7 linked regions of the Homo sapiens genome follow. The protein of the gene in region 5 purifies or fractionates together with the protein of the main gene of each other region. This does not show direct contact. Each region holds a gene or a part of one and is shown on either strand. Other genes may lie near its edges.

The links.
Region 1: the proteins of TRIM37 (region 5) and DSTN purify together in Homo sapiens (affinity purification with mass spectrometry, with the first as the bait; one large-scale study listed by BioGRID). This does not show direct contact.
Region 2: the proteins of TRIM37 (region 5) and ANXA5 purify together in Homo sapiens (affinity purification with mass spectrometry, with the first as the bait; one large-scale study listed by BioGRID). This does not show direct contact.
Region 3: the proteins of TRIM37 (region 5) and KRT2 purify together in Homo sapiens (affinity purification with mass spectrometry; 2 studies listed by BioGRID and IntAct, with this or other methods). This does not show direct contact.
Region 4: the proteins of TRIM37 (region 5) and NT5E purify together in Homo sapiens (affinity purification with mass spectrometry, with the first as the bait; one large-scale study listed by BioGRID). This does not show direct contact.
Region 6: the proteins of TRIM37 (region 5) and CELA1 purify together in Homo sapiens (affinity purification with mass spectrometry, with the first as the bait; one large-scale study listed by BioGRID). This does not show direct contact.
Region 7: the proteins of TRIM37 (region 5) and TPM3 purify together in Homo sapiens (affinity purification with mass spectrometry, with the first as the bait; one large-scale study listed by BioGRID). This does not show direct contact.

The regions. Positions count from the first base shown.
Region 1 is NC_000020.11:17,597,575-17,601,074, forward strand, and holds part of DSTN (destrin), read left to right. Parts: intron 1-3,163; coding exon 3,164-3,471; intron 3,472-3,500. UniProt on the Homo sapiens protein: Actin-depolymerizing protein. Severs actin filaments (F-actin) and binds to actin monomers (G-actin). Acts in a pH-independent manner.
Region 2 is NC_000004.12:121,683,481-121,686,980, reverse strand, and holds part of ANXA5 (annexin A5), read left to right. Parts: intron 1-608; coding exon 609-693; intron 694-2,209; coding exon 2,210-2,304; intron 2,305-3,500. UniProt on the Homo sapiens protein: This protein is an anticoagulant protein that acts as an indirect inhibitor of the thromboplastin-specific complex, which is involved in the blood coagulation cascade.
Region 3 is NC_000012.12:52,646,635-52,649,211, reverse strand, and holds part of KRT2 (keratin, type II cytoskeletal 2 epidermal), read left to right. Parts: intron 1-109; coding exon 110-205; intron 206-874; coding exon 875-1,039; intron 1,040-1,356; coding exon 1,357-1,482; intron 1,483-2,251; coding exon 2,252-2,472; intron 2,473-2,577.
Region 4 is NC_000006.12:85,491,583-85,495,082, forward strand, and holds part of NT5E (5'-nucleotidase isoform 1 preproprotein), read left to right. Parts: intron 1-394; coding exon 395-595; intron 596-2,258; coding exon 2,259-2,422; 3' UTR 2,423-3,500. UniProt on the Homo sapiens protein: Catalyzes the hydrolysis of nucleotide monophosphates, releasing inorganic phosphate and the corresponding nucleoside, with AMP being the preferred substrate. Shows a preference for ribonucleotide monophosphates over their equivalent deoxyribose forms.
Region 5 is NC_000017.11:59,026,881-59,030,380, reverse strand, and holds part of TRIM37 (E3 ubiquitin-protein ligase TRIM37), read left to right. Parts: intron 1-1,657; coding exon 1,658-1,966; intron 1,967-3,500. UniProt on the Homo sapiens protein: E3 ubiquitin-protein ligase required to prevent centriole reduplication. Probably acts by ubiquitinating positive regulators of centriole reduplication.
Region 6 is NC_000012.12:51,343,880-51,347,904, forward strand, and holds the start of CELA1 (chymotrypsin-like elastase family member 1), read right to left. Parts: upstream 2,801-4,025; 5' UTR 2,760-2,800; coding exon 2,744-2,759; intron 1,999-2,743; coding exon 1,916-1,998; intron 1-1,915. UniProt on the Homo sapiens protein: Serine proteases that hydrolyze many proteins in addition to elastin.
Region 7 is NC_000001.11:154,178,601-154,182,100, reverse strand, and holds part of TPM3 (tropomyosin alpha-3 chain), read left to right. Parts: intron 1-3,500. UniProt on the Homo sapiens protein: Binds to actin filaments in muscle and non-muscle cells. Plays a central role, in association with the troponin complex, in the calcium dependent regulation of vertebrate striated muscle contraction.

The sequences.
Region 1 (3,500 bases), on a different chromosome or scaffold from region 5:
TTCTACCCATTAATTAATTCCTCATCCTCCCCTGGCTCTCCATTGTCTTTTATTTCACACTGTGTCCAGGTGTACACATTATTTAGTTCCTAAGTGCGAACACATGGTATTTGTTGTAATAACTTTATTGAGGTATAATTCACATACCACAAAGTACAGTTCAATTCAGTGGTTTTTCAGTATATTCACAGTTGTGTATGCATCACTCCTGTCAACTTCCAGAACATTTTCATTACTTCAGAAAGGAACCCATACTCATTAGCAGTCACTCCCCATTCCCCTTTTTTCTCAACCTCTGGAAACCACTAATCTACCTACTGTCTGTTGATTTTACCCAATTTGAACATTGCATATAAATAGAATCATGCAATAGGTGCCCTTTTCTGTCTGGCTTCTTTCACTTAGCACAGTGTTTGTCAAGGTTCATCCTTGTAGCATGTATCAGTACCTCATTTTTTTAATGGCCAAGAAATATTCCATTGTGTGGATATACTACATCTTAAAAATCTATTCATCACTAAATGGACTTTAGGATTGTTTTCACTTTTGGTCTATTTTGAATAATGTTACTATGAACATTTGTGTACAGGTGTTGGTATGGACACATTTTCATTTCTCTTGAGTATATATACCTAAGAGTGGAATTCCTAGGTCAGGTGTTAACTTTATGTTTAACTTTTTGAGGAACTGCCAAACTGTTTGCCAAAGCAGCTGTACCCTTTTACAGTTCTACAGTAGCATATCAGGGTTCCAAGTTCTCCATGGCCCCACAAACATTTGTTATTGTCCATCTTTTTTATTTTAGCCCTCCTAGTGGGTGACTCATTATGGTTTTGAAGTGAAGAGGTATCTCATTATGGTTTTGATTTGCTTTTCCCTAATCACTATTGATGTTGAGCATTTTTTCCACGTCCTTATTAACCATTTATACATCTTTGGAGAACTGTCTATTTAAATCCTTTAAAACTGTTTTTTAATTGAAGTATTTGCCTTTTTTTATAATTGAGTTGTAAGGGTTCTTTATTCTGACAAGTTCCTTGTAGGATTTTTGGATGTTTTCTCTCATTCTGTTGGTTATCTTCATCTTATATGCATTTTTATTTCTTAAATGATTTGACATTTGGGTATCATTAATATTTTTCCATTGTTTAGTATTTAAATTCTATTGCTTATGATTCATTTTTCCCTTTTTATTAAAAAAATTTTAGAGGCACGGTCTCCCTATGTTGCCCACACTGGTCTCAAACGCCTGAACTCAAGTGATCTTCCTGCCCTCTCCCTCTAAAGTGCTGAGACTACAGGCATAGCTACTACCCAGCCTAAAGATACCATTCTTGACTCAAAGCATGGTTTTACATAAATTGACCATATGACCCAACAATTCCACTCCTAGTTTTCTACCCAAGAGAATTAAAAACATGCCCACACAAAACCTTGTACACGAGTGTTTATAGCAGTGTTAATAGTCAAAAAGTGGAAACAACCCAAATGTCTATCAACTGATGAATAGATAAGGAAAATGTGGGATATCCAAACAATGGAACATTATTCAACAGTAAAAAGAATGAAGTAACCAGCCGCTTTGTCATGCACCTGCAGCCCTGGCTATCTGGGAGGCCAAGGCAGGAGGACTGCCCAATTTTAGGAGTTCAAGGCTGTAGTGTGCTATGATCATTCCTGTTAATAGCCACTAGGCTGCAGCCTGGGCAACATAACGAGACCCCATCTCTCATGCACCCCATCCTGCATCATGGCTGAACATTCCAGATACTTCACAGCTCCCACCTGCTTAGCCAGGGAAGGGCCTTGCTGAGGAGTCATTGGCACTTGGCTCTGCTCCTTCAGCTTCTTCACTGTCTCATGGTCACTCCACAGGTCCCTTTTGGTGCCTACCAGCATAACAGATACATTGAGGCAATGATGGGAGACCTCTGGGTACCACTTATGCCTCACATTGGCCTAAGAGGATGAGTTGCCAATGGAAAAACAAATGACAGAGATATTGGTCTTGGGGATAGGAGAACAGTCGCAGTTGGTCATATTCCTCCTCTTGGCCAGTGGTGTCCCACAGGTTCAGGCTGATGATTTGGCCATCCACAGATGTCTGGGTGCTGTAGTTGTCAAAGACATTGGGCATATACTCCTTAGGAAAGGCATTTGTTGTATAACTGATGGGGAGGCAGGCTTTGTCTACAGCCACATCTCCTGCAATCACACATTTGATTGTCTACATTCTTCCCTTAGTCTGATCATCCTCCAGTGCTGTTCAACCATGACTGGCAGAGCCTCCTGGGCATCTCTTGTTGGGCTTTATAATTCTTGCTTTAGAAAAGCTAACATGCAAAACAAAGTAGTTAATGAGGCATTAACAATTATGGATATAATAAAGTTAATGTAAATAGCACATTCCTCAAGATGAAAAAATTAAAAACTGGTTTAAGATCTTGTGCTATCAAGATTTTGTTTAACTGTCCTTCAGCCCAGAATAGCAAGTATAACATAGCGAAAGGTAATTTTTCTGGTCAGTATAATCCCTAATTAAGCTACCCTCTTTATTATAGCAGTAGACATTTTCTTATTTATTCTAATCTTAGTTTAAAATTTGGAATTTTTAAGTGAAATTTTAATGGCAAGTGTGACTAATACTGAATATTGATCACATAATTTTGAAATGTGAGTAGAGCAAAGACCTCTTAATAAATCTTTTTTTTTATTAGAGAAAGAGATGCTGTAGGGATGGAAATTTCCCAGTCTAGCAGCTATGACCAGCTACTGTGTATTACAAAAGGAATTTTAGGTATCATGAATATACACACTGGGAAGATGATCTGCCTGTAGTCAAGGCTCTAAGCAACCTGTATAAGAAGAAAATAACCCAGCACCTTAGGAAACACTTCTTTTAAGGTTCTAGGGTAGGAGAGGCTGCTATAGTTGAATGTTTCCTTACCCCTGTGCAGTAGTGAGGAATGGCATATATTTGTGATCTTTTAAAAAGTTTGATGTCTAAAATTAGTAGTGATTACAGCTCAAATTTCTAGTTTTTTAATTAGATGATATACCTTTAAAATGTTAAATATATGCCAATCTATAAGCAGAATTTATTATTTTATGTTTGGCACAATAAAAATTGTAAGTCTTTTTCTCATGTATTTTCTCATCATAGGCCTCAGGAGTGCAAGTAGCTGATGAAGTATGTCGCATTTTTTATGACATGAAAGTTCGTAAATGCTCCACACCAGAAGAAATCAAGAAAAGAAAGAAGGCTGTCATTTTTTGTCTCAGTGCAGACAAAAAGTGCATCATTGTAGAAGAAGGCAAAGAGATCTTGGTTGGAGATGTTGGTGTAACCATAACTGATCCTTTCAAGCATTTTGTGGGAATGCTTCCTGAAAAAGATTGTCGCTATGCTTTGTATGATGCAAGCTTTGAAACAAAAGAATCCAGAAAAGAAGAGTTGATGTTTTTTTTGTGGTAAGCATGTTAGAAATATTGAGCCTCTG
Region 2 (3,500 bases), on a different chromosome or scaffold from region 5:
AAAAGCAGTGTATATATATGATAAAGTAATGTGTAACAGGAAGCTTTATGAAGAATGTCTTCCAATACACCTTTATAAAGTTCTAAATTCAAAGATTTGTATTCCTCTGGCACGTGAACGATCATTTCAGGCTTTGCTGGGTTATCGTAAAGTCCCTAAGTATGTATACAGAAACAGGACTTAGATCAAAAGGCACGTAACAAGAGCACTGCTTAAAATTGAGTACTCAGGATAGGGTATTAAGATTTAGTGCGGGCTCAGTATGCTTGTAGATCAAAATGGTGTGAGACTTAATGGGAAGGGAACCTGCAAAGATGTGCCCTCTGTGAACCAGGAGGTGTTGGTGGGGTTTCGTCACAGAGAAGAGGGAGCCAGCCTTCCCACTGATGGTATTACAGGTGATCAGGATAGCTTCTGTGCTGAATCGGCCATGCCAATTCCCATTGTAAATGGTTCCCTTCCCAGTTCAAAAGGGGTCACAAATCTTATCAAATGGTAAATTTATTTAATGACTGAATATGATATATAGCAAGCGGCTTCCTGTTTGTGTTATTTACTTTGTCATATTAGTCATGATATGAATAATACCACTGTGTTTCGTGAATTAGGTTCTCAGAGGCACTGTGACTGACTTCCCTGGATTTGATGAGCGGGCTGATGCAGAAACTCTTCGGAAGGCTATGAAAGGCTTGGGTAAATTTAGCTTCCTCTTTCTAAAGCAAATGTGATATTTGTTTTTCCAAACAAGTCATTAATTACAGTAAGAATAATTTTAGAATATTTTGATCTGAAATCTGTAGGAGAAGAGATATGTTAAGATAACAAAATAATACTATAAACCAGAGTGTCCAGTCTTTTGGCTTCTCTGGGCCACATTGGAAGAATTATCTTGGGCCACACATAAAATACACTAACAATAATGATAGCTGATGAGCTAAAAAAAAAAAAAAAGCAAAAAAATTTCATAATGTTTTCAGAAAGTTTATGAGTTTGTGTTAGGCTGCATTCAGAGCTGTCCTGGGCCACATGTGGCTTGCAGGCCATGGGTTGGACAAGCTTGCTATAAACCATCCCTAATATTCAGTCTCTAGAACTGAACAGGCAGTTAAATTCAGCCTCTGTGCTTTTGAGCTTGTCACCCTCACCTGTGTGGTAGAGGCCCGAGTCGATAAGGCAGCCATCCCTGCAGGTGGGCAGCTGTGCAGCTCTGTTCCCAATCAGATATCCCATTCTCATTCTGCTAGACTCTTCTCTTTCCCCAGCCTCTTTTCTAGTCATTTAAAAACCTCTCATCTCAAGGATTTCCATGTGTCACTGATCTCCTGTGCTCAGGCTCCTTTTGTACTACTGTTCATGTGCTTTCTGGCCCTGTAAGTCCTTCCATTGTATCCAGCCCACCTTTTCAGACTCATCTCCCATTACTGTTTAATGTGTTCTCAGACCCAACCATCCTGGCTTATCTGCTGTTTATGAAAGCCCTGTATTTCCCCACTGCTGAGCTTTTCTCTCATTCTAAACGCTGTCCTTCCTTTCGTCACTGCCTTTCACAATCCTTCCATCCTTCAATACTTGTGGGTGTCACCTTCTCCATGAATCATTCTCCAAGATTCCCTTCCACCTCCTATCAGCTAGGAGACCCTTCTTTGAGCCCCATTTAACACCTAGATCTCTCCTGAGGCACTTGTCACATTTTGCCTTAGCTCATACTTATTTGTGTGTTTTTAAAAAACTAGGTGCCCTAAGTTTTTTAAAAGGCAGAAGTATTTTTCCATCTACTTCACAATAGGTTGGGAATGGGGGGTAGAATATATTGGAAACGTAACATTTTATATATTGTAAATTTTTAATAAACTGTTTAATAAAACATTTATATATATGTGTGTATTTGCGTCTGTGTGTGTGTGTGTGTATATATATATGTGTGTGTGTATATATATATATATATACATATTTTTTTTTTTTCTAAGAGATGGGGGTCTCACTATGTTGACCAGGCAGGTCTTGAACTCCTGGCCTCAAGCAATCCTCCCATCTTGGCCTCCCAAAGAGCTAGGATTACAGATGTGAGCCACTGCGCCGGCCATAAAATATATTTTATATTCGCATAGGGAGAGGCAAGGAAATAAGGTGACTGGGAAGCGAGTTGCCAAGATCGTTGGGAGAGTATGCATGTAGGAGCCAAAATGTAATTGTTAACCATAAATTGCAGGCACAGATGAGGAGAGCATCCTGACTCTGTTGACATCCCGAAGTAATGCTCAGCGCCAGGAAATCTCTGCAGCTTTTAAGACTCTGTTTGGCAGGGTAAGACCACACTTCATCCCAAGAGAGAATGGGAGAACAGCTATCAGTTATAAGACTAGTTTGGAATATACTGATATTCTTTTGTAAGCATCATTTATTTTGTGATTCCGACTTCCCTACTTCTGTTTCTTTTCCACTCTCCTCTAAATTATCAGCTCTTAGGATACAGTGCTCACCCAGCTTATCCTCACATAATTGTTTTTCCTTGCCTAATGCTGTAGAGGTGCCAAAAGATCCTGTAGTGAGAACTGTCTCTCTTCTTTTCCTCTGTGTTTCCCACTCAGCATTCACATGGATGTCTTACTATCCATTTTCTAGGTGTAAGCCTGTATTAAAATATGTTTTGTTTTAACACAGTCACAGTCTTGGTTCCTTTTGTCATGATTTTAACTAATGGGTTTTTAATTAGTTGATTTAAATGCTTTTATTTGATTAATAATTCAAAAAAATTTATTTGAATTATTTAAATGAATTATTTGAATTATTTAAATTTAAATGAATTAGTGCATGCATGGAAAACTTAAATGTAGTCTTGTTATTCTGAAAACGTATGTCACTTAACTAAGGAAACAAGTGCAAAGCAAAAAAGAAAGTATTCTAAACACCATTTTTAGTTGTGTGGTATGCTGAAACTTATAGGTAGGAAATACTGTGTTTTTTTTTTCACAATTACATAATTTTTTCATAATTACATACACAATTTCCCCATAGGAACAGATATCTCCCAGTGGTCAGGAGTCATAACAATGACTATAATCTATTATGTGTTTGAATGTTATTACATATTGAGAGAAAAGAAAAAATTATTACGTTTGGGTATGAGAGACTAAATGTTGTCCTTTGTAAATTTCATTATATGATTATTTTTTGAAATTACAAAGAAGATATGTTTCTCAGAATAGTATTTTTATAAAATAGTTTTAGACTACTTTTAAAGGTATTCTTTTTTTTCAAGTTAAGAAAAACATCTTTTAGAAACAAATATCTTGACGTATAAGTGGGTTTGCTTTAGTTTAAGATTTTGGTCACAGGTTAAAAGTATGTTATTCAAGGTTATAGGGTTTTGTTTAGCTCATGGGCCTTCTACTTGGAGACAGCAACATAAAGAATTCATTAGAGCAAAGGACTGTCATTCATATTTAAGAAGAATCTTATTACAATTTCTGCTGGTTAACAAATTTGTATTTTCTGTGGGT
Region 3 (2,577 bases), on a different chromosome or scaffold from region 5:
CCTGGGATTTTAGAGAGGAGCCAGCAGGGACTGAGTAGAGGGGAGTGGCAGAGAGAGGAAGAGGCCTGTACAGGGAACCATACACCAGAGGCCTCAACCTTTCTTGCAGGACGTGGACAATGCCTACATGATAAAGGTGGAGTTGCAGTCCAAGGTGGACCTGCTGAACCAGGAAATTGAGTTTCTGAAAGTTCTCTATGATGCGGTAAGGAGGCTGCTCCGGGACAGTCCCTTACTTCCCACCCTTCTCACCAAATGAAAGTCCTTTCTGCTTGGTGAAAAAGTGGCAGAAGTGGGGTTTATGGACCAGCTGACTTCAATCTGCCATCATTCCAGGCCACTGGGGGGGCTTTCATAGCATAGGTCTTGTGGGTGAGGAATTTTCTCCTCCGATGTTATGGGAATAAGGTTCAGGAAACACCAGGACAGCTTCCCCTCCCTCCATTCCCCAGATGTCCATTTCCCCTGGGGAAGAGACAAGCCCTGTGCCCATTCCTGTGCCTACTGTACTTCAGAGGTCAAAATGCATTTGTCTCCTATCCCCCTCCCCAACCCAAGGGTGCACAGATGATTTCTGAAACAGGAAGTCCATTTAAGGTATTTGCCATGGACAAGCTTCTGTCTGGGGGCACTTACCATAACTGGCTTAAGTGCTGAATGTTAACTAGGAGGCTCAGAAATACAGGTGCCTCTCACTACAATTCTCAGGACAACCTTGGGAGAGGCCCAGGAGTAGACGGTTACATGATTTTCATCCCACCTAGTGTATGCTTAGTCTGAGGGTCTGCGTTTCCCTTATGCTGGGAGACAGAGGCCTCCTGTCTGCCTGTAGCTATGGCAGGATGTCATGACCAGACCTTCCTGTGTGTTGTAGGAGATATCCCAGATACATCAGAGTGTCACTGACACCAACGTCATCCTCTCCATGGACAACAGCCGCAACCTGGACTTGGATAGCATCATCGCCGAGGTCAAGGCCCAGTATGAGGAGATCGCCCAGAGGAGCAAGGAAGAAGCGGAGGCCCTGTACCACAGCAAGGCAAGTAGAGGGAATGTAGGAAGAGCCACAGCTCCCTGCCATGAGCTGGGTTGCACCCCCAGCTGGAAAGTGTACAGTAAGGTTATTGGTTTTTTGTTTAATGGTAGTTGGGCACCATTCCCAAGAAAGGATGTTGAGAATGGCACCAAGTCCTTTTGGGCATGTGAGACAGTCCCTACCTCTCATGAATGCAGCCATGACATTTAGCTGGGTTGACCCTCCCTGGACCAGTAACCAGCTCTCCTTCACTCCAGTCAGTCTGGAATGTGAGCCAGGCTGGAACTTCCTTGCAAACTGTCCTCTTCTCCCCATATCAGTATGAGGAGCTCCAGGTGACTGTCGGGAGACATGGAGACAGCCTGAAAGAGATCAAGATAGAGATCAGCGAGCTGAACCGCGTGATCCAGAGGCTGCAGGGGGAGATCGCACATGTGAAGAAGCAGGTGAGGCCCAGCCCTGTCCAGCGAGGGGCGGGAGGTTGTCTCTGGGTGTGCGTGAGAGTGTGGTTGTGTGTGAGTGTGCATGTGAGAGATGAGAGACACTGAGATATTGCACTCTAGCATGTATCGATCCCAAATTCCCCAGCTTAACATAATTTATGGCTTATTATAACAATTCTTAGAGTGCTCTAATAGACATTCCAAAGTAAGGATTATCGAAGGGAAAGAATTGTGCTCACTTGTTTATATGAGGAAAAGGGAGTCATAACAAATAGAGCAAACGTTAGTTTGATTGATTTGCTGCAGATTGCCGATGGAGCTTCCCGTTTGTGCTCAGCACAGGCCCTGAGCACCAGCCGACTGGTTTCATAGAGGGGCAGTGAGTATTGAGGGCAGCTGGCCTGGGGCTGGACGTTAGCTTTGGAATAGAAAAGGTAGAGGCAGAGAGTGGATTCCATCAGCAGCAGAAGCTTTGCCAAGCAGACCATTTCAAATGTTTTCATTTCCATCTGTAAAATGGGATCATGATTCAGGCCCTGTGATGTGAGGATCAAAGGGCACTATGGGGAAAGCCAAAGGGTGTCATCAACGGTGACATGGGAAGAAGATGTGCCAGAGACAGCGGCAAGTCTTAGCACAGTTGTTTGCGACTAAACTCCAGAGGGGACCTAACACTCCCAGGGCCAGTGGTTCTGGCTTCCTGCACTTCGAACACCTCTGCTCTCTGTCCGCCTCCGTCAGGCAGAATCCATTCTCTGTCCTTCTGTCATAGTGTAAGAATGTGCAAGATGCCATCGCAGATGCCGAGCAGCGTGGGGAGCATGCCCTCAAGGATGCCAGGAACAAGTTGAATGACCTGGAGGAGGCCCTGCAGCAGGCCAAGGAGGACTTGGCGCGGCTGCTGCGTGACTACCAGGAGCTGATGAACGTGAAGCTGGCCCTAGATGTGGAGATCGCCACCTACCGCAAACTGCTGGAGGGCGAGGAGTGCAGGTGAGGGCACTGGGAAGGGAGAAGGGGACCCTGGCCCTTCCTCTCATCTCTCCCAGAGCCAGGGCTGGAGGCAAAGACAGGGAAAGCAGAGAATGGGGCAGGCCC
Region 4 (3,500 bases), on a different chromosome or scaffold from region 5:
CCAAATGATTACCATTTAATGGTCTTCAAAATTGTAAAATGCTCTCTGCCTCTGATCTGTTTCTCACTTTCTAAGGCCATTGAATCAATTTAGTAGACCAATTCAGCATTTTAAGGGAAAAACAGAAAAAGATGTGGTTTTGTCCATGTAGAGTCACCCTTTGCCTATTCTGGTCCAGAGCTGGTTTTCCTTCCAGTGGTTCTCATATGTCCTGTAAGGACTCAAGGATAAAGGGTGGCTGCAATGTCACAATTCTCTTGACAAAATTTCACTCAGGTTTAAACCAAAGGAAAAACCACAGCCCCATGCCCCAATTGTAGAGTTTGGCCAAAATTCCTTAGGAAACAGAAATCTCCCTTTGGATCTGGTGAAAACAGATTCATTTCTTTTCTAGGAATCCATGTGGTGTATGATCTTTCCCGAAAACCTGGAGACAGAGTAGTCAAATTAGATGTTCTTTGCACCAAGTGTCGAGTGCCCAGTTATGACCCTCTCAAAATGGACGAGGTATATAAGGTGATCCTCCCAAACTTCCTGGCCAATGGTGGAGATGGGTTCCAGATGATAAAAGATGAATTATTAAGACATGACTCTGGTAAGCATGACTGTCTCTTCCTTTCTCTAAAGAACAACAAAATTGGGCCAAGAAGGGGAGCTACTAGTGGTGCCAGGAGGGCAAAGTGACTCCCTGTATTGCTGACTCCCTCCTGCTTTGCTTGTTGGAAAGCAGCAGCACAGCACAGCAGAGAGGAATATGTACCCTGTCAATCCCCGAGCACACACATGCCTTCATCCAACCCCAGAGACAAAACATTTGTAAATCAAAAATGTTTTAAAATTCTTTTAACTACATCTAAGCAGCTATTTAAATTGTGAAATATAAGTGAGTTTTGCATTAACAGAAATATCACACCTCTGGAATTTTAGGATATGGAAAACCATCACATTAAATCATTTAAATTTTCTTTCTTGAAGAAGTTTCTGTGTGAATCAGTCAGGTAGAAGTGGATGGGGTGAGCGCCGCCCTTTCAGCACAGTGGGTTGGTGGTACAAATCATAGGAATAACCATACTTGATGTCAGTTGGTACTTCTGGCAGCATTGAGGGACATTATATGCCAGCCTCACTTTTAGAAATTCTGTTGAGAGTCACATTATGTGCATACAGACCACTGACATAGGACACACTTCCCCTTCCTCTTCCTAGGGCAGAGACCAGCATGCTTACAAGACACACAAGCAGCTTCTTGGCATCTCTGGGTAGTTCCACCAGGATCTTCCTCAGTCTTATCATGCTGGACCTGTCATTTTAGCTACTTATTCCAAGGAGCGTGGAGGGCAGGACCAGACCAAAGGAGGCAGCCCTTCCTGGGAGGAAAGGTGCTGGCTTCTTCTGTCCCTTCCGTGACAGAAGATGGAAGGGCAGGCGTAAAAGCCCCATGAGACAAAGAGGCTGATAGCCATCAGCTGTCCACCACTCAAGCCTAGACTGAAGGATGTTAGAGAGAGGAGCTCATGCAGAAGGCTAAGGAAGCCCTGGACCTAAGCGTTCTCAACACTGGTTATACATTAGAATCACTTCAGGAGCATTTTAAATTAAATACCAATGGCTCGGCCGCAGCTCTTAAGAGATTCTAAGTTAACTGGATTGGGGCTAAACTCTTTTTCAGTGATTCTAGTGTACACCCAGAGGTGAAAACCACTGAAGAGAGAAGGGTTCTTAAGTACTGGAGTGATATTTTTAAAATAAAATTCTGTTGGGTTCCCAACAGAACATGGGTTCCCAACAAACATGGGTTTGTTGTAGCTATAGGCAATTAGCATTTATCCTCTCCTCTCTTTGGTAAAGGAAATCCCCCAAGTCCCATCATCAATTACATGAAAATAATTATTGGGCAGGCAAACAAAAGGAAGCCAGTTTTATCTCTCAACTAATTGCTCTTGACCCAGTTCCCTAATGCCCTTGTTCTGGAGTGGTTCAAAGGCTATGATGTCAATGACCTCTTTCTAGAGTCATCACAGAGCTGAGGCAACTCTACTTCCCCCAATTACCCAATATTGAACAACAGACACATTTTACATCTGGAGCATGAAAAAGCAATCAAATTCTTTGTACTTATGATCACTAGCGTTCTTGTCTTCTGTGACACTTTACCCCTGCTTATGAAATTGCTTCCCTTTTATAATTACAAAGGACTACCTTACTGTTGATTGATAATTACCTTTTCTGTAGTTAAAATAATGTATATGTTTTTCTAGGTGACCAAGATATCAACGTGGTTTCTACATATATCTCCAAAATGAAAGTAATTTATCCAGCAGTTGAAGGTCGGATCAAGTTTTCCACAGGAAGTCACTGCCATGGAAGCTTTTCTTTAATATTTCTTTCACTTTGGGCAGTGATCTTTGTTTTATACCAATAGCCAAAAATTCTCCTTGCCTTTAATGTGTGAAACTGCATTTTTTCAAGTGAGATTCAAATCTGCCTTTTAGGACCTGGCTTTGTGACAGCAAAAACCATCTTTACAGGCTCCTAGAAGCTGAAGGTTAGAGCATTATAAAATGAAGAGACAGACATGATTACTCAGGGTCAGCAACCTAGTGAGTTAGAAAAAAAATTAACATAGGGCCCTATAAGGAGAAAGCCAACTATGTTAAGTTTACGTGTCCAAATTTTAATGAAATTTTACTAACAATTTTAAACCATATTTTTCTTCTTCATATCCATTTCTAATCCATCAAACAGCTTATGTTTACATAAAATTTTATCATTCACAAGGAAGTTTTAAGCACACTGTCTCATTTGATATCCACAACTTATTTTTGGTAGGAAAGAGAGATGTTTTTCCCACCTGTCAGATGAAAAAACTGAAGCTCAAAAAGGGTTGACTTGACCATACAGCTAATGCTGACAGATCCAAGACCTAGACCTAGGTCTTTTGAACTCAAGTCCAGCATTCTCAACTATATCAAGTTACTGTTCAGAATACTTAATATCTCCTCTCTTCATAATTATCAATAGCCCCAAGCTCATGGATGACAAATCTCTGCTTTATTTCTTGTCTCTATTTTTTCACTTTATAGCTCCTGTTATAATAGCAAGTTTAATGGTATAAACACAGGATACCATCCTCTCTTGCAACACCCATGTGCCTTTGATGAGTCAGGTAGCAAGCTGTAGTAGATAATGAGAAAGGCCAGAGGCTGCAAAAGACAGTCAAAGGACACGAGAGAAAGGAAGGGGAAGAACAGGACTCCAGGACTGTTTTATATTATAGAAAAGCAAGAGCTAAAGAGCATTTACACATGTTAAACAGATACTTGTTAAGCATAGTGCCTGACACACGGCATTAGCTGTTATTTTATGAGATTCCATCAGCTCTGCCTCTGTCCTCTTTCTTCTAACATGAAGGTATCATGAGAAGAGAACCTTCTAACATAAGCTGTAATTCTAAACCTGCACTTGTCCCTCTCCAGCAAGAGGCTAGCACTGAATTCATT
Region 5 (3,500 bases):
AATCTCAACACTTGGGGAGGCTGAGGCGGGTGGATCACCTGAGGTCAGGAGTTCGAGACCAGCCTAGCCAACATGGTGAAACCCTGTCTCTACTAAAAATACAAAAAATTAGCCGGCCATTGTGGCAGGTGCCTGTAATCCCAGCTACCTGGGAAGCTGAGGCAGGAGAATGGCTTAAACCTGGGAGTCGGAGGTTGCAGTGAGCCGAGATCGTGCCATTGCACTCCAGCCTGGGCAACGAGTGAAACTCCATGAAAAAAAAAAATGAACTGGAATACAGACAGTTATTTTTCTGGAGGTGATACTGGATAATTAAAACCAAGGGTGTGAGATTGCAAAGGAGTTTTAAGAATATTTTAAAAGAAGAGAGCCAGGAACATAATCCTGATGAATATCTGTTTTTACTGAGTGTCAGGAAGATGAGCCAGATAAAGAGCTTTTAGAAAGGAGAAAAAATACTCATGGAAGCCAAATGAAAATACCTTTCAGTGAAGGGATGTTAATAAAAGCTAGTGTGCAGAAATATATGACTTTCTTTTTATTGAAAAGGCTTGCTTGGGTCATTTTTTGTTTGATTGATTGTTTGTTTGTTTTTGAGACAGAGTCTCACTCTGTTGCCCAGGCTGGAGTGCTCTACAATTTTTTGTAGAGACAGGTTTCACCATGTTGGCCAGGTTTGTCTCAAAACTCCTGAGCTCAAGTGATCCACCTGCCTCGGCCTCCCAAAGTGTGCTGGGATTATAGGCGTGAGCCACTGCACGTGGCCTGCTTGGGCTTTGATGTTTATTTTTTTCTGTGTATTTATTTAACACATATTTAGTGAACATTTGTCAGATTAACTTCATGTTCTTAACCATGTAAAGGAGTACTGTAAAAGGTATCAGGTAATCTAGTTGAACCAGATTTTAAGGTACATATAGTGGTAAGTAGAACTAGAGTCATGTTGGGTCCATTCTATGAAAGGACTTGCATGCTAGCCGGAGGAATTTATTCATACTAGGCATGGAGAGCTATTGTTTTATTTTAGAAGTGGTTAGATTCAAACCGTATTTCAGAAAGCTGACAGTTCTGAGAAAATTATCAGAAATGGAAGTTCTAATAAAAAAATTTTTTTTTGTACAGATAGGGTGTCACTATGCTCCCCTGGCTGATCTTGAACTTCTGGCCTCAAGCGATTCTCTCACCTCAGCCTCCTGAAGTGCTGGGATTACAGGCATAAGCCACTGCACCTGGCCAGAAATATGTATTTTTAATATAATGTTATATATGGCAGATTTGACAAAGTATTTGGTTTCTAGATTTTTCTTTGTCTTTTTTTTCAATTATAAACATAATAAAAGCTCTGTAGAAAGTTTCAGAAAAGTGGAGAAGTTTAAAGAAGAAAGCACAAGGCAGTAGGGCAGCTTTTAAACTTTTAGAATTAAATGTGTAATTCGAACTTGAGTATGATGTGACTCAGATTCTAACTCTGAAGGTGTGAATAAGGTAGGATTCTTTATCTTTATTTTCATTAATGGAATTTAGTGCATGTTTTATTGTTGATACCACGTAAAGCACGCTAGCTTATTTTACACATCAAATTTGCATATATTCATGGTACAAATGATTTCATTAATATTAACGTTTATGTTAACATGACTTGTCAATTTCTCTGAAGCATCATATTCTCGAAAAGATAAAGACCAAAGGAAGCAACAGGCAATGTGGCGAGTGCCCTCTGATTTAAAGATGCTAAAAAGACTCAAAACTCAAATGGCCGAAGTTCGATGTATGAAAACTGATGTAAAGAATACACTTTCAGAAATAAAAAGCAGCAGTGCTGCTTCTGGAGACATGCAGACAAGCCTTTTTTCTGCTGACCAGGCAGCTCTGGCTGCATGTGGAACTGAAAACTCTGGCAGATTGCAGGATTTGGGAATGGAACTCCTGGCAAAGTCATCAGTTGCCAATTGTTACATACGAAACTGTAAGTAATATGTTCCCAGTGTCATTTCTCCACACGTTATTTGGGAAACTAGATGACTGGTTTTTTCAAAAGAATAATATTTAAATACCACTCTTCCAGTGAGTTAAGACTACAAATTACATGTGACTTTTTTCTTCATCCAAAATTGATTCCGTATATTTTTACTATATAATAGAACTAACATTTCTTGATTGCTTACTCTGTATTTGGCAATAAACAAGACAAAATTCTTAACATCATAGATCTTGTATTCTAGTAGTGGGAATCAGACATTAAAAAGTGTAGACAAGTAAGTAAAGATCATTTCAGTGGGTAAAAGGTGCTGTGAAGGAAACAACCGAGGAGTGGGATGGGAGGAGCAGATGAGACATGTTCTATTGGGGTAGTCAGAGAAAGTCTCTGTGAGGAGGCAGCACTTGACCTGAGACCTGAAGTTTAGGAAGGTGGCAGCTATTTATAGATCTAGGGCAAGCAGTGTTCTGGGTAAACAGAACAGAAACTGCAAAGTCACTGACACAGGATTTATTTTGCGTATTTGAAGGATTGAAGGAAGACCAGTATGGCAAAGAAAGCAGAGAGAGGAGACTAGCAGGAGACGAAGTCAGAGAGAGGTAGGCAGAATTTAGATCAGGGAGAGTCTTGCAAAACCTCAAAAAGGAGTTCGAGTTTTATTATGATGTAAGGAGGAAGCCTCTAGAGAATAAAAATAAGGGGTGTTTATAATCTGATTTACACTTTACAAAGATGACTTTGCTTGTTGTGTGGAGAAGGGTCTGAAAAGGGTTGAGGACAGGAATTGTGAGACCAGTAACAGCCTATTACATTATCTTGTGTGAAATATGATGGCATTTTCTGGAGTTACAATAATGGATAGAGGGGCTTGTTCACAGTCTAGCAGCCTTTCTTGACTGAGGTTCCCATCTTTCTTAGTTCTCTTAAGGATGTGCTATTCTATTCTAGATGCATAGGAGGGAAGTTAATCCAGTCTTAGATCAGCAGGGCTGAGTTCTTTCTCAGAACCATAGTTGAAAAAGCCTAAATAGAATTTTAGGAAAGTTCTATTTAGAAAGAAACTAAGAATTATGATTAAGTTTTGGCCTAAGCAACTTAATAGGCAGTGGTATCATTTATTGAGAAGCAAATCAGATAAGAAGCAGGTTATGGGGCTTGGGAGGAGGTAAGGGCAGAAAGTTGGGTATTCTTTTTTAAACATGTTTAATTTGAGACACCTGCTAGATATCCTAGTAAAATGTCATAGACACGTGAATGGTACACAACTTTGAAACTCAGAGAGAGGTCAATGCTGGATATAAACAGTTGGGAGTCAATAGTATTTTATATTATTTAAATCCAGAAGACTGAATAGGGTCAAGTTTGGAGGGAGTTTCAATGGAGAAGCAAAATTTTTGACTCTGTGGCACTTAAACATTTAAAGATCTGATAAATAGGAGAGGCCAGCAAAGGAAATTGAAAGAGCAATCATTAAGGTAGGAGAAAAACTAGAAGGGATAATATCTCAAAAATCAAAAATAAT
Region 6 (4,025 bases), on a different chromosome or scaffold from region 5:
ATAGGTTGGTGTTTCTCAAATGGTTTTGCCCCAGGTCGGTTGCAGTGGCTCATGCCAGTAATCCCAGAACTTTGGAAGGCTGAGGCAGGAGGATCAGTTGAGCCTAGGAGCTGGAGACCAGCCTGGGCAACATAGTGAGACCTCGCCTCTACAACGTCAAAAATAATTAAATATAAAAGACTTTGCCTCAAACTACATGTCACCTCCTTAAAGTCCTGCTGTCCTTCAAAACATTCTCTTTCTAGGCTAGAGATGGCAAATAGGTTTCATCTGACCTGCCAATTGCTACTGATTGCTTGGTAGTGGCCACCTGGAGTGTGGCATTGATAAGGGGTGTGTAGATGCTTCTGGGGCCAGCAGGAAGGGATGCTCCATCGCTTGGTGATGTTTGCTGTGTACATGGATGGAGGAGTAAAGGCACACAGTGTATTTGGCATTATCTCTCTAGGTTGTTGCAATGGACCTAGAACCCATTGTAACTCCTTTTTTGGAACTCCTTCTACCTCTGTTCTCCCTTAAAGAGGAACTATAGGCCAGGCACCATGGCTCACGCCTGTGATCCTAGCACATTGGGAGGCCAAGGCGGGTGGATCACCAGGTCAGGAGATCAAGACCATCCTGGCCAACATGGTGAAACCCCATCTCTACTAAAAATGCAAAAATTAGTCGGGCGTGGTGGCATGCACCTGTAGTCCCAGCTACTCAGGAGGCTGAGGCAGGAGAATTGCTTGAACCCAGGAGGTGGAGGTTACAGTGAGCTGAGATAGCGTCACTGCACTGCAGCCTGGTGACAGAGCGAGACTCCATCGCCCCCTCTCCTCCCCCAAAAAAGAGGAACTATAGGCAAAGATTTGCTCCATCACCTAAGCCCAACAGGCTTAGGTCTCCAGAGCTGTACCTTTAGTGTTTTCAAGACATCTCCTGTCTCCCCACTTCAGGGACTACTTAGAAATACCAATGGGAGGCCAGGCGCTGTGGCTCATGCCTGTAATCCCAGCACTTTGGGAGGCTGAGGCGGGTGGATCACCTGAGGTCAGGAGTTTGAGACCAGCCTGGCCAACATGGTGAAACCCCGTCTCTACTAAAAATACAAAAATTAGCTGGGCATGGTGACAGGCGCCTGTAATCCCAGCTACTCAGGAGGCTGACGCAGGAGAACTGCTTGAACCCAGGAGGCAGAGTTTGCAGTGAGCCGAGATCATGCCATTGCACTCTAGCCTGGGCAATGAGAGCAAAACTCCATCTCAAAAAAAAAAAAATACCAATAGGATGTTTGTTTTTATCAGTTCATGTCTCTTCTTCTAGCACCTCATGTTATGTAATAGCTCTACTCCTGAAAACTGGGGCTCAGACTTTTATAAGCTAAAACTCTGATTGCAGTGATATCTTCTCAAAGTGTGGATCTTCATCAGTTAATTTGCCAGGTTTACATATTTAGATCACTTAAATCAGGGCCCAGCTGCCCTGTTAGCAAAGTGGAAACTCTAAATAGCCAACTAAGCAGCATGCTGTACGTGTGTGTGTGTGTGTGTGCGCGCACATGCGTGCAAGCATTGTGACACACACAGTGTGGAGTGGTGTGCGTGTGAGTTTCAAGGTATGTGGAGTCCAAGGTGACTGTCTGGCACCCAGTCTTTCTTGCGTGGCACAAGTGCTGTCGCTGAGAATATAAATGTATCTTGTGTTTGGGTGTGTGCCTTGAAGAGGGACTGTGGTTGGTGTATAAATCCCCTCCTCCAAGCCTTTTGCATTTAGAAAACCACCTAAGCCTGATCCCATCCATCTTTAAAATCGAGAACCTAGACAATTGGAGAGCTGCTTGTTGATAGGGACATGCACAAATACACATGATACCTTATGTCATGCACTGAGCTCTTATTTGGGTGGAAGTCTGGGGCTGGGAAGGAACACCCACCTGAGAGGGCCAGGAATTCCTCCCGGCCTCAGTCCCTCCGACTACGCGGGCATTGGTTTCCGGAAGGTCCTGGGTGCTGTGTCCTTTGTGGGGCAGAAGAAAAGTGAGTGATGACTAAGCATGGGGTCAGCCAGGGGTAGGGGTGGGGGGTGGCGATTGTGCTTTGAGGAATGTTAGCCTTGTCTGCAAATTCACAGTTCCTCTCTAACGAATGAGGGGCCCAGCTGTGAGTTCTCTGAGCCCCTTTTGAAAACAGGGGTGCCTGGGTGCCTTCTGTTTCCCCCAGGTGTTCCCAGAACTCCGGCATGCTATGAAGGACCTCTCTCAAACCACCAGGCTAGGCCCCAGAGGCTCCTTGTGGTCTCCTCTTTGCTCAAGATCACCCTTTGGCCTGAAGAGACCCCCCCCCACTCTTTGACCCCCACCAGCCCCCTAATGCTTTGGCAAGATTCTCCAGGGTTCAGGGCCTGCAGTGCACACCCCAGCCAGGCACCTGCTGAGGAAGTCCTCCTGTCAATGGGGGTGGTGGGGAAGCCCAGGGACCCACCCCACTACCAGATGGGGCTTCTCTCTGCTTTGTGGCCCAGGGACCTGCCACCCAGAGGGGCCTGAATAGCCAGTGGCCCTGACCTTTTCTATCTTGGCCTCCAGGAGAGTAAAGGACGCTCTGCAGGCAGAGCGTCCCACCTGCCCTGGGACAGGGTGCTGGCCTGGACTTAGGGAAAATTTGCTGACCTTCCTGCCCAAGTCCCCCTCCCTATAGACCTCAGGCCACATGATCCACTTACCATAAAGGACCAGGGTTGCGACTGGACCATATCCACTTACCATAAAGGACCAGCATGTTGCCGATGGAGTAGACCACTGCCTTCTTGCTTGGACCAAGCCCTCTTTATACTCCTCTTAGCAGCAAAGCTGACTGTCTTCTTGCCAACTGGCAGGGCTGAGGGTGCAAGGCAGGGAAAATCACAAGTGACATGGAAATACAAATGAAAATATTTCTTTTCAAGTAAACTAATGTATCTGTTATTCAAAGACAGAACAAGGCCAGGGCTGAATTAATCATCTGCTTTTAATTGAAAAGCATCCAACAAACTCTTTTTCAGAAATAAGATGGAGAACCAGGGCTGGTTTTTCTCTAAGGGAGCACCCCTTGTCATCCATCACTCTCTCGTTGTCCTCAGTGGCACCATAAATGCAGAGACTTGCCCTGTGCACTAGCAGCTGGAGGCCAGGGGGATAGTGGAAGAGGGGGGAGTGGTTAGCAAGGGCAAGGAAGACACAGCAACTCTCTCTGCCCAAAGAGGGAGATGGCACATGCCCCCAGGATGCAGGCATAGGTGTAAATGCAGACACAAAAGCCAAATAGATGCAGTGGAGATAATTCTGGGGGAGGAAAGTACTGAGAAACAGGCTTGGGCCCTCTCAGATGGAGAGCCAAGAAGGGGCTCCCAGAGGAGAATATGAGGCAGGGTAGAGGAGGGGATCCTTGGGATGTGAAGACAGTCTGAGGGCTATGAGGGTAGATGGAGGGTGGAGGGCAGAGGGAGAACGAGGGTAGGAGCCGAGGTTCCTGCAGGAGATGAAAGGCTTTGTTCATCACAGTTCGTAGAGGAGAGAGAAGGGAGTTGCGGCCGGGCGCGGTGGTTTACGCCTGTAATCCCAGCACTTTGGGAGGCTGAGGCGGGCGGATCACAAGATCAAGAGATCGAGACCATCCTGGCCAACATGGCGAAACCCCGTCTACTAAAAATACAAAAATTGGCCGGGCGCGGTGGCTCATGCCTGTAATCCCAGCACTTTGGGAGTCGGAGGCGGGCGGATCACGAGGTCAGGAGATTGAGACTACTCTGGCTAACACAGTGAAACCCCGTCTCTACTAAAAAAATACAAAAAATTAGCTGGGCGTGGTGGCAGGCGCCTGTAGTCCCAGCTCCTCGGGAGGCGCAGGCAGGAGAATGGCGTGAGCCCGGGAGGCGGAGCTTGCAGTGAGCCGAGATCGCGCCACTGCACTCCAACCTGGGCGACAGAGCGAGACTCCATCTAAAAAAAAACAAAAACAAAATACAAAAATTAGCTGGGCATGGTGGTGCGCTTCTGCAGTCCCAGC
Region 7 (3,500 bases), on a different chromosome or scaffold from region 5:
GGCAGAGAATCAGATGGTGTGCCAGTCTCAAGGTTTCTGATTGACTTGGGCAATTTGGTGGAGACAATAATGAATTCCAGGTGACTCTAGTGGAATATTTGTTCAACTGAAAGTGGAAACATAAAATGTTGGTGGAGTGAACAGTGATTCTAGTGATTTCTTTCTTCCTTTCTTTTTTTTGAGACAGAGTCTCACTCTGTCGCTCAGGCTGGAGTGCAATGGCATGATCTCGGCTCATTGCAACCTCCGCCTCCCGGGTTCAAGTGATTCTCCTGCCTCAGCCTCCTGAGTAGCTGGGATTACAGGTGCCCGCCACCAAGTCTGGCTAATTTTTTGTATTTTTGGTAGAGACGGGGTTTCGCCATGTTGGCCAGGCTGGTCTCGAACTCCTGACCTCAGGTGATCCACCCACCTCTGCCTCCCAAAGTGCTGGGATTACAGGTGTGATCCACCGTGCCCAGCCTATTCTAGTGATTTCTTTAAACGTCTTTCTGTTTAAAAGTGGCTGATTAGTTTTAGTGTAAGCCATAAGATTTTCCAAGGTCTAGGGTGCAGTCTAATAGATGGAGCTGATACGAGTTGAGGCTTTGTTTTGGAGGATCTTGAGAGAGTAAAGTAACTGTTGCTAAAATTCAAGATCCAGTGAAAGTACTCATGTGGTTTATTCTTTGTTCTTTGTTCTTTCCCTTGGTAAGTTTTTGTTTTTGTTTTTCTTTTTGGCTGCTCCTCTGGGAAATAACTGAGAATGTTTTTGGGAGGGGGAGGGGTGGATTTCAGAAAAGGATGGTAATTGGGGGACAGCTGCCCTCCAGTTTAAATACTTAAAGATTGTTGGAATACTCACTTATTTTTATAAGTGGTCATGGAGATGCTGGGATGGGAGCTTGTTGTCTTCCTCAGACACCTTTTTCTAGGTAGATTTTTTTCCTCTGTTCAGTTTGCCAACAACTTCTTATTATCTGTGCAAGTGAGATGGACTGGCTGGGTGACTCTTTATGGCCAGTGGCACTTTCTCATCTCCTTTGTTCTGGAGACCAGATAGCTTTAAAGGGGAAGACAGAGGAACTGGCCATGTGTTGAGCTGCAGAATCTTAGGCTCAGTATTTAAATATGGACATTCTAGGAGTAGTTCTAAGGTGGGTGATTCCTGCCTCCCATCCCCCCTCTTTTTTTTTTTAGATGGAGACTTGCTCTGTAGCCCAGCCTGGAATGCAGTTGCACGATCTCTGCTCACTGCAACCTCCACCTCCCAGGCTCAAGTGATTCTCCTGCCTTAGCCTCCTGAGTGGCTGGGATTACAGGCATCCACCACCACACTCGGCGATTTTTTTTTATTATTTTATTTTTTTATTTTTAGTAGAGATGGGGTTTCACCATGTTGGCCAGGCTGGTTTCAAACTCCTGACCTCAAGTGATCTGCCTGCCTCAGCCTCCCAAAGTGCTGAGATTACAGGCATGAGCCACTGCGCCTGTCCTGGGGTGATGTTTCTTAAGCTACTTTCACTCAGAGCCTGCCAAATTTGCTTATTGAGCTGAGGTCTAGTGAGGAAGTCCTCAGAATGGGGAAGTAGAGTTATAGTTAAATATTGATGAAATCATTTCTTCTACTCCCCAGCCTGAAGAAGCTTAATCTTTTGACTTTCTGCTGCTCTGCTGAACTTTGAACCCCTACTGAGGAGGAGACACCTGTGGGAAGGGAGGGGGGTTGCTTGGGCTACCTGTTATCCTCTTAAGGCATTCTGGAATGTGGGTTTTGCAGACTCCTCCCTCCTCTGGAGCGGGAAACTGCACTCTCTGATGGTATCTCATGCTGTTAGTGGGATTGTCACTTAATTATTTTCCTGGTTACTTTGTGTGAACATCCAAGCCACCCTTGTTGGGAAGCTAGATGAGTCTAAAACTGAGACACTGGTGTTCTAGGATCCATCTTTCTTTTCTGCTCTCGGCCTGGAAATTGGTCTTTTATAATGTAGCACCTTGTCAAATTTACTTTCAGTTCTGTATTTCCTTTTTACTTCTGTCTAAATGGAAACAGATGGCAACATAATGTTTAAATGCAGTCTTTTTCCTTATCTCTTTTTTTTTGTGGTAGTGGTGATAAAAATACATGTAAAATTTACCATTTTAACCATTTATAAATGTACAGTTCACCTTATCTGTTTTTAATAACTCTCTCCTAATTGTCCCTGATATTTTTCTCTTTTTAATTTTTTTCTAGTCTAAAAAACTTAAGAGGCTGGGTGCGGTGGCTCACACCTGTAATCCCAGCCCTTTGGGAGGCCTAGGCGGGTGGATCTGAGGTCCACCTGTGGATCTGATGAAACCCCATCTCTACTAAAAATACAAAAAATTAGCTGGGCATGGTGGCGCATGCCTGTAATCCCAGCTACTTGGGAGGCTGAGGCACAAGAATTGCTTCAACCCTGGAGGCGGAGGTGGCAGTGAACCAGGATTGGATCATGCCACTGTACTCCAGCCTGGGCGAGTATCGGCACTGGGGGAGTGAGGGGTCAACTGCGGGAGTGTAAGGTCAGCACACTACCTCTGCCTCAAAAAGAAAAAAAAAAGTAATAACAAAAACCTTAAGAGTACTACCGAGGGAGTGGGCTTTGATTCTGGCCTTAATCCTAAATTCCTAGTCTCTGGAGAGGTTAGAATGCTTGACTGTTGTGTGGTTCTCTTCTATTCGTGGGCCTGGTGGACTAAGCAACCTTTCTTTGGTTGCTTTGCTTTCCTTTCTCTTTCCCCAGTACTAGAACACACACTCACAGGGGAGAGGCAGATAGCCCTTTACCCCTGCTTAGGCTCCGCCTTTGTTTACTGTGGGGCAGATAGCTCTACTCCCTTCCAACTTGCCTCCCCTTTGGTGAAGTTTAAATTCCCCAAGGACACGGTATCTCCCTGGGTAATGCATTTGTGAGCACAGTGAACTCAAATAGTCCTTTACTCACAGGGCTCAAGCCTAACTTTCTGATACTCTTTCATTTGAATTTTATCTGTGGCTTTTATCTAATAAGAGAAACCCCAGTGTGGCAGAAAGCCAGATTTAGGCTAATCCCCTTCTGTCCTTGGCCCTGTTCTGCCTGAGAGTACCATCACACTGTCAGTTTCTTGCCTGGAGGGGTTGACATATTTGGGAAATCTCTTTGGAGTGGAGGATAGCCGAAGGTGTTGTCAGCCATCTGGTAATGTGACTGAGTTGCTGGGGCATTCTACTCTTTCCCCAATCCCTCACCCAGGATCTTTGCTTCCTGGGCAGTGGAGAATCCTATTATTACTTGAAGGGAAGAACCACAGAGTACTGTATATCCTCCACACTGGGCAGAGATAGGTCAGCTGAAACACCAAAACCGCATCTGGATGGGCATGCTAAAACCTAAGATGATTAGGAAAGTGCAGAGCTTAACGTTTCCCAGGGCCACAGGTAGCCTGGTCTGCAAAAAGTAGGCCTGTTCAATCTCTTGGTACCCATTGGTATTATTTGACCTGAAAGGGACAGG